Linked DNA regions of Homo sapiens: region 2 is linked to region 1. The links come from fine-mapping of genetic effects on plasma protein levels. A gene starts in region 1. The other region holds a variant in brackets. All regions are shown on one strand. Distances are between the middles of the regions.

What was found. PIP is the chance, under the fine-mapping model, that this variant and not a neighbour inherited with it causes the effect. Protein levels are from antibody-based Olink assays in UK Biobank. Linkage for the fine-mapping came from a reference panel and not from the study's own genotypes, which makes the PIPs less certain.
Region 2: its variant is fine-mapped to the plasma level of the BPIFB1 protein (UK Biobank, PIP above 0.99).

Annotation. Positions count from the first base shown.
Region 1 is chr20:33,275,209-33,283,499 of GRCh38, reverse strand. It overlaps BPIFB1 (BPI fold containing family B member 1), which reads right to left and starts at 286. Exons shown (of 16, transcript NM_033197.3): 1 at 246-286. RefSeq lists enhancers at 1,213-1,713, 1,714-2,214.
Region 2 is chr20:33,124,265-33,132,594 of GRCh38, reverse strand. No RefSeq gene overlaps it. Among named protein-coding and RNA genes, the nearest start is that of BPIFA2, 40 kb to the left of the region's middle. The variant A/G (reference allele first, on the strand shown) is at 4,693.

The sequences.
Region 1 (8,291 bases):
GTCACTAGGAAGAGGTCAGGAAAACACTCAGCCAGCCCCATCCCTTCGTCACTGCCCTTTGGTCCTCTGGGCGAGGGAGCTGGGCATCTCTCTACACCTGGCCCTGACCCTCAGCGGATCCTGACTCACCGAGGGCCCTTCCCTGAGGGCGAGCCTCCCCTGTGCTCCTGACCTGACCCCAACAGGTATCTCTAGCTCAGAACCTTCCTGGCAACCTTGGCTTTCAGCCCCTTCCCTACTTTTACCTGGGCACGCTGGAGTCCTCGGCCCGCTCCTCTCCTCTCCCGGGCAGTGGGTCTGGAAGTCCAACCTTATATCCTGCACACCCCAGCACAGGCTTTGTCTTTAGGCAGAGGCCTCAGACCAGGCCGAGGTCTCCAAGGTAAATATTTGTGGCTTCTGCTGAACCACAGCCCCGCCCGGAGGCAGCCTTGGGACTCCAGCTTCCTGAGGTTTGGAGAAAGGAAGGTCCAGGCTGAGAGAAGCACAGTGCATATAGCAGAATAAGCACTCCATAAATGTGAGTGGCCGTTGCCATTAATATTATTATTGCTTATAATAGGATGAGCCTTTGTAGAGGGATTACAACAATTGTTTAATCCAGATAATCAATTTGGGAAAAGGAAGGAGTAGCCTTACCCACCCCTTATTCCTAAATACATCAAAGATACACATCTCCATCAATTAATTCACCCAGGAGAATAGATTTGAATCCTATTTTTGCCACTGCTTTGCTGTGTGCCCTTGGGCAAGGTACTTCACCTCTCTGGGCCCCAATGACCTCATCTATAGCATGGGGATAATAGTAGCTCCTCCTCATAGGTTGTTAAGAGCATGAGTTGAAGTGCATGCCTACACAGTGCTTAGCATGGGCTTTCATTTCATTCATTCATTCATTCCGCAGCAATTAAAATCTGCTCTACCTTGTCTGCATCTTTAGGAATCTCCATGAGCACTTGTGGACCAAAAGAATAAGGAGGGATGACCATGAACCTAAAGGACAAATGTCAGAGCCCAGCAGGACGCTGTCATCCACCACCTGGGCCCAGGTCTTGGCTCACGCAGCCTGCACAGTCACCCAGAGGTGGGCATCAGCAGCGTTAATGTTACAGAGGGCACCTGAGGCTCAGAGAGGCGAGTGACTTGCTCAAGGTCACATGACCAGGGATTCCAGCTTTGGGACCTGAACCCGATCATCAGTCCAGACCGGACCCTCTTAACCGCCACACTGTCCTTCCCCTGAGACTTCAATTTAGCACTGGAGGTGGTGGTGACACCAACATGGCCTTTTGATGTCATCTGGGGAATTATCCTTGCTACCCAGTTTTTGTCTAGAAGAATGGAATTGTGGTTTAGAGCTGGGATGGCCATTGTTGAATCCTGTCTCCATCTGCAGCAGACAAGTCAGGGGCAGTAAGTGTTCTGAGGTCACAAAGTACGTGGCCAGGCCCTGGCTGGTCTCTTCCTCCTGCTTTTTGACAAGAAGAACAAGGTGAAGAGCGTTTGCTGTCCTGCCATGTTTGCAAACACACCAAAAGCCCTGAATACCTAAAGGTGAGGTGTTTTGAGAGAGCTCTTGGGAGGACCCTGCCGATCCCTTGGGCACATCTCCAGAGAGGCAAATGCCCCTGCTTGGCTTCCCAGCTGGCCATGCCCACTGCCCATGGACAATGACCCTCTGTGCGGTGCTCGGGCCCAATGCCAAGACCTGGGGCCGCATCAGCTCCTGCTTCCTGCCACGTGCTGGGACAGCAAAGCTGGCTGCATCTCTGCAGGCCCATGGTCCCCAGACTCCACACCTGCCCTCAGTACCGCGTGGCCCCTCCTCAGGTTGCTGGCGTCTCTTGGCCTTGGCTCCACCTCTCTTCAGCTCCCAGGCCTTTTTGTGCCGTGTCCTCTTTCTGGAGTACCTCCTTCACCCTCCTGAAAACCTAATTGTGCCCTGTCTGGGAAGAAGCGCAGGAGTGCAGGAGGAAGCCTGTGGAGGCCGACAGACACGGCTCAGATTCCTGCTCCTATACTGACAGCTGTCAGCCTTGGGAAAATTGCTTCTTCTCTATGAGACTGTTTCCTCCATTGTGAAATGGGACTATTTTGAGGGTCTCGTAAGGTCATGAGAAATGCTTGAAACATCAGAGAATTCAGCAAGTGGTAAATTCACACCTGTAATACCAGCATTTTGGGAGGCAAATACTGGTGGATTACCTGAGGTCAGGAGTTTGAGATCAGCCTGGTCAACATGGTGAAACCCTGTCTCTAAAAAAAAAAAAAAAAAAAAATTAGACGGGCATGGTTTTTAGGTGGCACGTGCCTGTAGACCCAGTTACTCAGAAGGCTGAGGCAGGGGAACCACTTGAACCCAGGAGGCAGAGGTTGCAGTGAGCCAAGATCGCACCACTGCACTCCCGCCCGGGCTACAGAGCAAGACTCTGTCTCACACACACAAAAAAGAACGCAACATCTGCATAAAGCTGCCTGACTGCTGCTCCACCTGGCCTGGATGTCCTCTTCCCAGCATGTTTGGCTGCTGGCCACCTTTCAGCCCTCACCTCTCTCTACTTCATCCCTCGCTCCTCTCACTCCCACCCCAGGGCCTGCGCACATGCTGGCCTTATCCCAGGAGCGCTCTCCTTCCAGCTCTCATTCTGGCTTCTTCTAATTCACCAAGTCTCAGCTACAGTGTTGCCTCCTGGGGTGGGGTGGGGGAGCAGGGGACAAGGGGACCACCCTCTCTAAGGTAGGGCTCTTTTTGCTGCACACTGAGGGTGTCCTTACTAGCATTTACTGGAACTGGGTCTGAAAACTTGAGTGTTGTTTTAGGCACCATGATTTCCCAGATGCTGTATACCAAGGAGAGGTCCTGGGCCACAGACCAAGCAGTGGCTAAAAACCAGTTGCACAGCTCCTGCATCTCTCATGCAGGGGGCCCTGACCCAGATTAAGGCAACGAAAGGGCCAAGAAGGGACAGGAAGAAGATGGCAGAGGTATTTCTTGGGAGACAGCTGTGGTCCCTCCTCCTCTCCCAGGGAGGAGGGCAGGAGGTGTTTGGGCCTCAATGCAGGCCTAGCAGGAGGGACCTTTTCAGGGACCACTTAGGGGCTTGAGGTTTGTCTCCCCTGGAGTTGGGGCTTGCAGTAGACTGGGTTGTGTCTCCTGATGAGTTGAAGTCATGTTGGGCAAAGTGACTTCCGTAAGTGGAAAATTACTGCTCTCTGTTCCCTCTGGGCAGGGTCAAAGCGCATGTGTGTGTGTGTTTTCCCAGGGCCGGGTGTGGACCCTGCAAGACGAAGATCGGTCTAGGGCTGCTTGAAGTCCTTCCTAGTATCACCACCTGGAGAGGACGCTAGAGAACCAGGGGCTGGGAGTGGCTGGGGTGGCCTGCGGGACAGTTAGCCATCAAAGAGGCTCTGCCCTGGTGTGGGGGGTGCAGGTCAAGAAGCCCCACAGGGAGGTAAGACTACCTCTTTGAAGGTGCCGACAAGACTTGGCTCTCAACATTTTTTGGGCTCCCCAGAGAGTTGGGAACTACCTGGCAACAATATCAGTCAAAGGAAAATTCTCCTGCCCCTTTTCTTCCTTCTGGATGGAGAGAGAGAGAGAGAGAGAGAGAGAGAGAAAGAGAAGGAGAGGGAAGTGCAGGGAGAGAACACACACCTCTTCTCCCCTTTCCCACCAAGCTGATCCACAGAAGCCTCGGTTAGGGGTGGGGAGATAATCTGATGTTAAATCAAAGCTGGATGCTCAGACACAGCAAGATGGCAGAGTGGAAAAGATCATCTCCATTCTACAGATCACCAAACTGAGGCCAAGAGAGGAGAAAATAGGGGTTTTTATCCTCCCATTTTCCAGATGAAGTAGGACCTTGGAGAAGGGAATTGACTTGCCTAAGGTCCCACAACCATAAAGCAGAGGGCCAGGATTGGGACCCATTTCTGTCTGAATTGAGAGCCCATGCTCCACGCACTGACCCAGCCTGCCCTACCATCTCCAGCCAGAACGAGGGCCAAGCTCTCCTGGGAAGACTGCAGTCATGCGGAAAACCAGAGAGGGTTTCTGATGACGTGGACAGATGGAAATCAGAGGCCTTGCCAACTGTCACTGGCTCGAAAGAAAGAAGGAAAGCAAGAATTCAAGCCACTCCTAAAGAAGCTCAGGTCCTCCATTGTTGCCACCAAAGATGCTCCACCAGCATGGTAGAAGCATTTTGCTCTTGTACCAATTTCAGCTGCCTGGTGATGGCTCTTGAAGCTTTCAAGGGTCTGGGCTCAGCAGGAGAGAATGTGGTGATTGATTAACAATGTCGGTCATGAGCAGACACAGATGCTTCATCCTTGCTACATCCCACCAGCATCCTTGTTAAGGATTATGGATTTTCTTGCAAAATATTAAAGATAATGGAGTGGGGAGAAAATCCCTAGATGACATGGAGTTTGCCACTACCTTTGGGCTGGTTTTGGATAAGTCAGTTCTCTCTGAGCCTCAGTCTCCCCAGCTATAGAATAAAGATGTTGGGCTCCACGATGCAGTGGCCAGGCTGGCTGTGATGACCTTTGCTTATAGTGGAGGGGGCTCAGTTCTTATGCAATGAGGACTGGGCTGTTTCTGAGGTCAAGTATGTTGTTAGGAAGATCAAACCCATTGACCCAGGGTCAGTGGAGGTTCTGCCAAGGGAACTGGCCAGTGATTTGAGCATAGAGAACTGTGAGGATGCTCACTGCAGCCTTACCTGGAATAGCCCTAAAGTGGGACCCGCCTTAACATCCAGCAATGGGATTTATTAAATAAACCGTGGGCCACCAGGCAGCCATCACAAAACAATGTAGACCAACCAACAGAAGTAAGTGAAAAGGGAAACTGTTTCTTCTATTTTTTAACAAAAAAAAATTTTTTTTAATCTAGAAAAAAATACTGGAAGGAAATGCATCAACAGTACACGTTTCTTGGTGGTGTGATCACAGGTCACTTTCACCATCTTCTTGGTATTTTTCAGAATTAAAAAAATGTTTACACTAAATATATGTATTGGATATGTAAACAACCCCACTAAATGGCCTGCAAATGAGTCAATAAAGGTTGGGCGCAGGACAAGGGAGTGGAGGAAACCTCATTCCTTTCCCAATGCCCGACCCACAGCCCCCACCAACCTGGGACTCTGAGGAATTATTGTGATGCCATTGCTGATAGCAGCAACAAACGCCCAGTCATGCCGGTCCCGGAACCACCAGGAAAGAAATAAAGAAATCATTACTGGAACTTACAACATAATCCCTCTTTTGTGGGACAGAAATAGATTAAATTCAGTGCAAATGAACCCTGGCTAAGTTGGAAGCTGTCCTAGCTCTTGGGGGGAGACAAAGACCAGATCTCTGCCCTCGTGGGGCCCACAGTCCAGTTGATGAAGGTGTGTTGGGTGACCCAACAGAGGTGGATGCAGGCAGCCGGCTGAGTGCTGGGATTTTCATCCACGTGGGCAGCATGTGCGTAGGCTCAGAGCTCCAGGAATGGGAACCCAGGCAGGGTGATGTGTTGCTTTCACTGCCGTGAGCCTTGGCCAAGTGTGCAAAGTACCAGGATAGAGGTGACACAGGGATTGTTATTAGGGCCAGACGAGCAATACAAATGCCAGGGTGCAGACAGGATGGGCTTAATAAGGCCAGCACAGGTCAAGTATGTCAAACAGTAGAACAGGGGCAAACACACAGATGGTATGGTCAGCACTGAGAGAGAGGGAGGCTGGCACCTGCCTCGTGTGTGACAGTCGCTGGCAGCTCAGTGGGGCCCAGAAGGGGATAACCTGCCTGATTAGGGAGGGGAAAAATGATTTCTTTCTTTCTTTCCTGGTGATTCTGGAACTGGCATGACTGGGCTTTTGTTGCTGCTATCAGCAATGGCATCACAATGCTTCCCTGGGGAATAGTTCAGAGAAGGCTTCCTGGAAGAGGTGACATTTGATCTGGGCTTAAGGGATAGGGATGTGTTAGGAGGGGAGGGCATTCCAGAGTGGGAGCCTTTCAGGGGCAAAGGAAGGAGGGTGGGTTTTGGAAAGAGTGTCTGGGAGCTTGCCTGAGTCGCTTGAAGGGGAAGGGAGTGGGGCGGGTGGCAGGGAAGGTGGGCTGGAGGGGAAGGGAGTGGGGCGGGTGGCAGGGAAGGTGGGCTGGAGGGGAAGGGAGTGGGGCGGGTGGCAGGGAAGGTGGGCTGGAGGGGAAGGGAGTGGGGCGGGTGGCAGGGAAGGTGGGCTGGAGGGGAAGGGAGTGGGGTGGGTGGCAGGGAAGGTGGGCTGGAGGGGAAGGGAGTGGGGCGGGTGGCAGGGAAGGGGAGCTGGAGGGGAAGGGAGTGGGGCGGGTGGCAGGGAAGGTGGGCTGGAGGGGAAGGGAGTGGGGCGGGTGGCAGGGAAGGTGGGCTGGAGGGGAAGGGAGTGGGGCGGGTGGCAGGGAAGGTGGGCTGGAGGGGAAGGGAGTGGGGCGGGTGGCAGGGAAGGGGAGCTGGGGATGTTCTCATGAGGAGTCAGAACCAGGGGCTGGAGGTGAGATGGGATTGGGGATGGGAATGGAGCACAAGCAGGGCTGGGGTCCTGAGGCCCTCAGTGCCTCCCAGAACGCTGTGGGCTGTATGGAGCCTCCCCCAAGGCAGGGGACAGTGTGCTCAGATCCTCAAAACCAGGCCTCGGGTAGCCTGCTTGTCTTCACTGTCTGGCTTTCCCAGAGGTCTCTGTCTTGCTCTTGCCATCCCCTTCTCTTTCTGTCTCTCCTTCCCTCCTCCTCAGGCTGTCCCTGCCCTGTCTCTCTCTTACCCACTGTCTCTCTCCTCTCTCTGCCAATCTCTTGGGTGCTTTCTGAAGCTCAGGAGGGAGCTGGGCGGCCTGTGGAGAGTGCACCTGGACACACTACGCGGTGACCCGCCCCTACTGTGTGGCCTCAGGCAAATGTCCTCACCTCTCTGTGCCTGCAGTCTGTGCCTGGCAAAAGGGGCTCTGGGCCCCAGCTGTCGGCCTGTGCTGTGCCTGGCCTTGACATGGAAACCACCCAATCAGATGAGCAGGTCCTCTTTCCAGGCCCTGCCCTGAGCATGGTGTTAACTCACTTTGACTTCACAATAGCGGTGCTGCAGGGGACAGGAGCTGGGACATACTCACAGCACGCTCACTTAAAGCAAAGCGGGGAACCCCAGAAGGAACTCTTGACACTGGGATTTCTGTGACTGGTATTGCAGTTGCTCTGATTGATATCATATCATATTGTCTAGCTGTAACTAGATAAAGGAAGACAGGAAGGGGTGACTTACAAAGTTCAGCTGTTGTGAGAACCCTCACGTACCAGTGTCTACCTGTCCTTGAAAACGGTGTGACTATTGAGTGGGGGGCTTGGGAAATGGGCAGGTCCCTGGGAGATGGGGGAATCACTGGACCAGGCCCCTGGGGGCAGCTGAGTCCCTCAAGTTGGGAGCCTCAGTTTGGGGTGCTTGGAGGTTTAACCTCATCTGCCCTCAAATGGCCATCCTTGGAGATAGATTCTTGAGGCAGCCCCCACCCCCACCCCATCTCCAGTCTCTCCAGGTCAGGAGGGCGGGAGAGGTTCCACTAGCAGCCCAGGGCAGGGCCAGAGAGGCTGGAGCAGGCTAGAGCCTAAGACTTTGCTATGTTGCAGGGCTTGTATGATTTTAGGGGTCAGTCCCCCAGTATTTCTCTCCCAACCCTCTAATTTTCTTTAGTAATTCAAGACTGGTGGCACAAACAGATGCAGTCGGCTAGCAGGTCAGTTAGTCAGTCAGCAAATGCACCTTACACACCCTCTGTGTGGACACAGAGCTGGGTGCCTTGGATATAGCAGGGAGCCCACAGATCAGCCCCTGCCCTCCTGGGGCTCACAGTGTCCTGGGGAGACAGAGACGGAGGGAGAGCAAGAAACAGACAAATAAATATACAGTCACAATGTGCGATTATCTCAGTCATGATGCGGAACAAAAATGAGAACATGTGTAGGATCCTGAAACGACACCATCAGAGGCTCATGAGAGGTTTCAGCCTCCTGGGAACGCCCTGGATGCCCTCCCCCAACCAACACTCAACACCCCTGCCACACACACACACACACACACACACACACGCACACATACACACACGTGACCCTCCCTCTATTCATCTTCCACGCATTTGACTTTGGAACACAGTTTTGGGGGCCAACAATGTATGAAAGGAAGGGAGCTTTATGAAATGTATAATATAAATAGCCCTACTATTTCTTTTTTCTTTTCTTTTCTTTTTTTTTGAGACAGAGTCTTGCTCTGTCTTGGA
Region 2 (8,330 bases), 150 kb after region 1:
CGGAACATCCCAGGCCAGATCTGGAATCTGCACCGGGGCTTCAGGGCAGGTCTCAGCTCTGCCATTGGCCAGTCGTGGGACTGACTCTTCTCTGTCTCAGGTTCCCCCTTGGTGCTGGCCTTAGCACCTGCTCCCTGAGGGACAAGGAGAGCAACTTGCAACCTGTGAAGGGTGGTACCCATTGAAGGGGCTGTTGGTCTTTCTGTCACCATTCACAACCTCAGTGTGACTCTTCCTGAAACCCTCTTGGGGGTTTGAGGAACGTCAGAGCAGGAGGAGGCTGCAGCCCAGAGAGGCCGAGCCATGTCACACAGCACTGACCCCAGTGGGCCTCTCCTGATCCCTCCTGCCATCCCTCTCAGGTACCCTGGCTCTACCCAGTGCCCTCTGAGTGTCACTGGTATGGGAATGGGAGTCAGCCACAAGGTGGCTGGGGCACTGCCTGGGGCTGGCTGGCTGGCCTCCTGTCTGTCTGCAGCCTTTTCACCTGTTTCACACTTTACTCAGCAGGAGAAAGAAAAACGGCCCCACCAGGGTGGGGTGATGGCAGGCTTGAGGGACAGGACAGCAGGGCCAGGCTGAGTCGGGGAGAGAGTGCTCACGGCCAAGGAGCCAGGGCCTCCCATGCTTGAAGCTTGGTTTGCACCATCAGAAAAGCAGGCATCTGGGGGCTGGAGAGCTCCCTGTGGGAGGCCTGGCCAGAGGGTGGTCTGCTGGGGATGGGGCAGACCAGCCTGGCCAGCGCCTCCACCTCCAGGGAGCTCTTCCCTGGAGTTTGATGCAGAGTCCTGGTGGATGCTCCATTTCTCTGGCTGTTCATAGCCTTCTGTGATTTATGCCAGGCATATTTCTACAGCCTTTGGAGGAAACACCATACTTGATGGTCAGAGCAACCTCTATGTTTTGTTCAGAATTCCTTAAAACCATGTGCCCCTCACACCATCTTTATTGAAGCAGGACAGACATACATAAAGGGCCCATACCATAGGCAGAGGGCTGTAGGGATTTGTACAAAGTGAAACTTCCCAGGGGTTAGGGACTAATCTGTGTCCCCAACCAGCACCCCAAATTTATATGTTGAAGTCCTAACCCCCCGTATCTCAGAATGTGACTGTATTCAGAGATAGTGTCTTTAACGAGGTAATTAATCCATTTAAAATGAGCTCATGAGGTGGGGCCTAGTCCAGTATGACTGGTGTCTTTATAAGAAGAGATGAGGACACAGACACACACAGAGGCAAGGCCATGGGAAGATGGAGCAAGGAGACGGCCATCTGCAAGCCAGTGAGAGAGGCCTTGGAATGAAACGGACCCTGCCAATACCTTGAGCCTGGATTTTGAGCCTTCCAGACGATGAGAAAAATAAACACCTGTTGTTTAAGCCACCCAGTCTGGGGTACTTTGTTATCGCAGCCTGAGCAGGCTAACATGCCACCCAACCAGCATCCAAGCAAAACATATGGCATCGTCCACATCCCCAGAGCCCCACTTAGGCCCCTCCCAGTCTCTAACTTGCCCCCAAAGGGAACTCCAGTACCATTCTCATGTCTCACACTGCAGATTCATTTGGCTGGGTTTTGAATGTTACGTAAATGGAATCGTGCAGAACGTGCCTTTTTGTGCCTGGTTCTTTCACTCAACATCACAGTTGTGTGATTAATCCATGTGGTTGTGTGCAGGCCTTGTTTGTTCATTTTAAATGCCTGAGTGTGCTCCATTGTGTAAGTTACCGCAATGTCGTTTTTCCGTCTACTGTTGATGGGTGTTTGGGCAGTTTCCAGTTTGGGGCTTACGTACAATGCTGCTGCAAAGCTTCTGGTGCCTTTTGGTGAACATGTGTGCTTATTGCTGTTGGGTGTGTACCCAGGAGTGGAATGGCTGGATCCTGCGGTTTGTGAGTATTCAGTTCCAGTAGACACTGCCAAGCAGATTTCCACATACACCATCTGATACTCTCACCAGCAATGAAGGCAAGTTCTGATCGCCAGCACTTGGCATTTCCCATTTTACACTTTAGCCATTCTGGTGGTATCACATGACCCTCACCCGTTTGCAAGTTGACGTCTCAAATTTTCAGCATGAGTTGAAGTAGTTGTCAATTTTATTTTCAGGGGATTGCAAATACTGACATTTAAAAGGAATACATTTATATTTCTTTATGTGCATTTATACATGTATCCAATGGACTACAAATTCCACAGTGGTTTGATTTCCACCTTCGTCCATTTACAAACATGTGAACTGGCCGGGCGCGGCAGCTCATGCCTGTAATCCCAGCACTTTGGGAGGCTGAGGTGGGCAGATCACCCAAGGTCAGGAGTTCTAGACCAGCCTGGCCAACATGGTGAAACCCCATCTCTACTAAAAATACAAAAAAATTAGCCGGGTGTGGTGGTGCATGCCTGTAGTCCCAGCTACTTGTGAGGCTGAGGCAGCAGAATCACTTGAACCTGGGAGGCAGAGGTTGCAGTGAGCCAAGATCATGCCACTGCACTCCAGTCTGGGTGACAGATTGAGACTCCATCTCAAAAAAGAAAAAAACCACAAAAAAGAAAAAACAACAACAAAAACGTGAACAAATTCTTTAACAGTCAGAAATTTTGTGGCATTCTTTTTTCTCCTTGAATTTGTATTTGCATTGCACAAAAAGCACTGTCCCCACAGAGTTTTAGTCTAATGTAATAGATATTTATGCTTGAAAGTCCGATGTTGATTAAACTCATTCATCCATTCCTTCATTTGCTCATTCCTCCATTCATCTAAATACAGTGTATTGAACGTCTGCTACAAGCCAGGCTCTGTACTGGGGTCACCAGGTGAGCAAAACAGACAAAAGCTCCTGTTCTCATATAACTGACATTTTAGTTGATATATAAACAAAGCAAATAAGTATAACAGTGATTGGTGGAGTGAGGGGGAGGCAGGCAGGGCAGAAGGAGAAAAGAGTTGAGGGGAAGGAGGAGAAATTTTAGATACAGAGGTCAGAGAAACCTTCCCTGAGAAGGTGACTTAGAGTGAAGACTGCAGAGGGTGAGAGAGGCAGCCATAATACTATTGAAGGTTGACCAGTCCAGGCAGAGGGACAGTACATGCAGAGGCCCTGGGGTGGGGAAGGTGCTGGTGCATTACAGGAATAGTTAGGAGGCCAGCAAAGCTGGTGTGAAGCTCGCAAATGGAAAAAACAGAGAATGAAGTTGGACAGGGAAGGAGAGAGGTAGACTCTTCTGCATCAGAAATATCTATCTTTGTTGGTGTGGATGCGGTGAACAGGAAACACTTCTACACTGCTGGTGGGAATGTAAACTAGTACAACCACTATGGAAAACAGCATAGAGATTCCTTAAAGAACTAACAGTTGAACTACCATTTGATCCAGCAATCCCACTACTGGGTTTCTACCCAGAGGAAGAGAAGTCATTATGTGTAAAGATACTTGCACATGCACGTTTATAGCAGCACAATTCACAATTGCAAAAAATGTGGAACCAACCCAAATGCCCATCAATCAATGAGTGAATAAAGAAACTGTGGTGTGTATATATATACGATGGAATACTACTCAGCACCTTCATCCATTTAAAAACATGTGAACTGGCCGGGCATATTCATTCCTTCAGAAAGGAATGAATTAATAGCATTCGAAGCAACCTAGATGGGATTGGAGATTATTATTCTAAGTAAAGTTACTCAGGAATGGAAAAACCAAACATTGTATGTTCTCACTTATAAGTGGGAGCTAAACTATGAGGATGCAAAGGCATAAGAATGACTTTGGCGGCCAGGTGCAGTGGCTCATGCCTGTAATCCCAGCACTTTGGGAGGCCGAGGCGGGTGGATCATGAGGTCAGGAGATCGAGACCATCCTGGCCAACATCGTGAAACCCCATCTCTACTAAAAATACAAAAATTAGCCAGGTGTTAGAGGCGCTTGCCTGTAGTCCCAGCTACTCGGGAGGCTGTAGCAGGAGAATTGCTTGAACCTGGGAGGCGGAGGCTGCAGTGAGCCAAGATTGTGCCACTGCACTCCACCCTGGGCAACAGAGCAAAAAAAAAAGAATGACTTTGGCAATTCAGGGGGAAAGGGTGGGAAGGGGGTGAGGGATAAAAGACTACAAATCGGATCCAATGTATACTGCTTGGGTGATGGGTGCACCAAAATCTCACAAATCACCACTAAAGAACTTACTCTTGTAACTAAATACCATTCCCCCAAAACCTATGGAAATATAAAAATTTGTTAAAAAGTAAACATTAAAAAAATATGTATCTTGATTAAATTTTTTTCAAATCTCCTTTGACCAGTGGACACTATGTATTTAAAATAATCTTTTAGATTGTTACTATTAATAGTGATATACAATTTATCAAAACAAATTTTGATAATAATTAAACACAAAGTAATATTGATTTGGAAATGGATGTGTTAATGACATGGATTGGGCTTTTTTCCAATTAGTTCTTTTAACAGATTTATAATTTGCTTATTGCTAGAAGGAGGCAGTGTTTAGCACTCATCAGAGACCTAATTTTCATTTTTAGAGACCTAAGCGCTCTTAAAAAACATCCGCTTATTTGTTTAGCAAATACAGGTCAGCAGATAAGAATGAACAGAGTTTTGGTAAAACAGTGTTGCTCAATTCTTTGAACTGCTTTCAATGTAAATGCCAAAAATCATGTGATGATGTTTTATCA[A/G]AAATGGTTTTGCAACAATTCCAGCAGATTAATACCACCACCAGCAGCAACACTCCTCTTTTGTTGAAAGCTAATTGAAAACCACCTGGCTTGCTTCCTGGCCACTGGAGCATCACTCTGTCCCTTTGTTCAGAGCCCTGGAGGTTGAGCCCCCCAGGCAATGCACTTGAGTAGGGGTTGGGGACAAAGAGAGAAATGCTAAGAAGCAGAAAGATTCAGTGGCAGCTCCTATCTGTAATCCCAGCACTAGGTGGGAGGATCGCTTAAGGCCAGGGGTGGGCAGGCTGCCTGGACAACACAGTGAGACCCCATCTCTACAAAAAATATGTTAGCTGGATGTAGTGGCTCATGCCTGTAATCACAGCTATTCAGGAGGCTGAGGTGGGAGGATTGCTGGAGCCCAGGAGTTCAAGTCTGCAGTGAATTATGATCACACCACTGCACTCCAGCCCAAGTGTCAGAGCGAGTTCCTGTATTTAAATTAATTAATTTATTTATTTATTTTTGAGACAAGGTCTCACTCTGTCACCCAGGCTGGTGTCCAGTGGCGTGATCTCAGCTCACTGTGGCCTTGACTTCCCGGTCTCCAGCGATCCTCCCACCTCAGCCTCTTGAGTAGCTGGTACCACAGGTGCGCACCACCAATGCCCAGCTAATTTTTGTATTTTTGGTAGAGATGGGGTTTCGCCATGTTGCCCAGGCTGGTCTCGAACTCCTGAGCTCAAGTGATCTGCCCACCTTGGCCTCCCAAAATGTTCGATTATCCCTGTACTTAAAAGAAAAAAACAGGAGAAAGAATGTGGAAAAAAAGATGGGAAAGGAGAAGCCACCCTTAAAAGGAAGATTCTTGGAAAAGAGAACACAGGAATGATGACACTGCAGAAATGGATTCATTTAAATAATCCTACATTCAAATCTGTGGACAGTTTTCTTGTATCCCTGCTCCAATCCACTGGATTAAAGATGGTCGAGGCATCTGTGGGCACTGGGTTTAAATCCTGAGTCTTCCATTTATGAGCAGTATGCTCTTGAAGTGGTCAGCTAACTTGACTAAACCTCAATTTCTCATCTGTAAAATGAGGACAAGAAAAAGTAAAGAAATAGGGAAATATAGGGCTTGGCCACGTGGCACCTGGCACATGGCAAGTGCTCGGAACATCTGAGCTGCGACTGTGACCATCCGAGCTGTGACTGTGACCATCCTGTCCATCTTCCTTTAGTAGAGAGCTATCACCATGGTTGCCGTGTTATCCTCATTAAGTAGGGGCAGTCTTGGAGGTGAAAGGGTCTGCAGGGCAGGGCTTCCAAGCCCCACAGCAGCTCCACCTGTTTTTCTATCAGGGAGCCCAGAAACCCCCATCTGAAGCCACGGCCATGCTGTGTCTTATATCAGGTAAATTGCAGCAGGGATACAAGAAAACTCTCCATAGGTTTGAGTATAGGATTATTCAAGTGTCAGTTTCAATGCTGATAGTGCAATGTGGACTGACTCCTAACCTCACCCCCACCTCCTCTGGCCACTTTCCAGGACCACACCTATGGCTGGATTTAAATTTCCCCCCATAATCTCTGTGGCTTAGGTTAGGATCTGGCGCTCTGATGTCAGGACAACCTGCATTTGAAACCGAACTTTGCTCATCATGCACCAGGTGACCTCAAGTGCCCTCTCTGGCCTCAATTCCCCTCTCTGGGCCTCAATTCCCTCACATGTAAAGTAGAGATAATGGTTGTTCCTGCTTTGAGGAGCCGTTGTGATGGCTGAATGAGTGCATGCCAGGAGCTTATCACTAAGCTGGGCACCGAGTAGACTCGATCCATTGTTGCTGTAATGATCAGAGGAAAGAGCCCTGCAGGCGAGATCAGGAGGCCTGAATCACCATCCCAACACTGCCTTTCCTCACCAGATCACCTTCCCATGCTTCAGTTCCCCCACTTGTGAAATGGGAATTCGAATCTCTGCTTTCTCTCTCAGTTCCCAGATGAGGGTCAAGTGAGATTGCAACCACAACATGCTTTATAACCCTCCTGTGGGGTAGGGCACTGCCCAAGTGTGCGGAGGAGCATGGGAACCTGCTCCTGGACCCCTGGCAGTACACTGGAGAAATAATAGACCCCCAGGGGTTAGTGGATGGAGGTTGGCGGGGGAATCACAGACTTGGCAAAGATTTCCAGGTCCACACTTGGCCCACAAAATAGTAGAGCTGCCTAAATTTGGATGACAATAGGGAAGGGAGGCTGTCCACATAACCACATAACCTGGCATATAGTAGTTGCTCAATTAATGCTCACTGGATGAAGGATCAGATGCTCAGATCTGTGACTCATGACAGGGCAGATCTGGGCAAAGACAGGACCTGGGAGTCTTTTCGGGTCCAGAAACTAGGAAAGAAGGTCCAGAACCAGAACAGTGACGACAAAAGGGTCCCAGCAACTTGAAGTGGAGAGGGCTGTGGCAAGACTGGGTGAGGACAAGAGCAGGTGGAGGAGGACTGATAGGGCCATGGCAGTGTGGCCTGAGAGACTGGGAGGGAGGTGTGGAATCCCCCAGGGGGCAGATATATGGCATCTGGTGAGGCCAACAGGTGAGATGTCAGCATTCAGGTGGGGCGGGGAGGGAGGCAGGTCTGGAGTCAGCTCAGGGCTCAGAACAAGTGTTCCTTAGAGCTGAGCCCCTGTGGCTCCCTTTGGGCAAATGCCCGGCTTGTTTTTATCAAACCTGGGCCATGCCAGCTTCTGTATTCGTCCTTTTCCGAGTCACCTTTTGCCTGGAAAGTGGCTGGGCTGGGAGTTGACAGCTGAGCTGTCACACTTGGCTCATACCTTGAGCAGGGGAGGGAGACACTCTTGGGGCTTGAGGGATCCCGTGGAACACCATCACATGTAAGTCACGGTCACCTGGACTTAGAGGTGGGCATCAAATACCTGGTTCTACAATCAACTCCATCACCTGCTTGCTGTGTGCCCCTTGCCCTCTCCAAGCCTTAGTTTCCCTGACTGCCTAAAGGCAAGAGTCGACTAAAGCAATGTTTCTCCAAGTGTCCCCCAATCCAGCTGCATCAGACCCACCCATGCAGCTTATTAAATTTGGATTCCAGTTCTCCATCCTGGAACTACTGAGACAGAAGCTCTGGGGAGTGTGGGCCTGGGGATCTGCAATTTTTTTACCTGCTGCCCTGGGGCTTCTATGATGAAGTGAGAGAAACTTTGATGAGGGCTCAGAGGCTGGGTCCTGACCCTGCCGTACTACTCCTGGTAAGTGGCCCTTTGATGTCCTGGGCCTCAGTTTCCACGAAAAATTAAAGGTCTTATGGGGGGAAGCAGGAGAGGACTTGCATTTCTTGAGCTCCATGCTGGGGACTTTTAGGCTGATGGTGTCAGTGAACCACAGACACTCACTCTGCTCCAGAATCATGTGCAAAACAGAAAGTTTAATCATTTGAGAGCAAGCATTGGTGACATTGGCAGGGTGCCTGCATCCAGTTGGAGAACCTCAGGCATGGCAGAAAGAAGGTGGTAGCTGGGGCATGGGATGGGGCTTCATGCCTGAGCTCAGACCTTGGGGCTTGGAAGTGGGGACACCTCAGGGATCCAGGCGGTAGCACTCACTTCACTCAAGGAGGTCTCATGAAATGAAATGC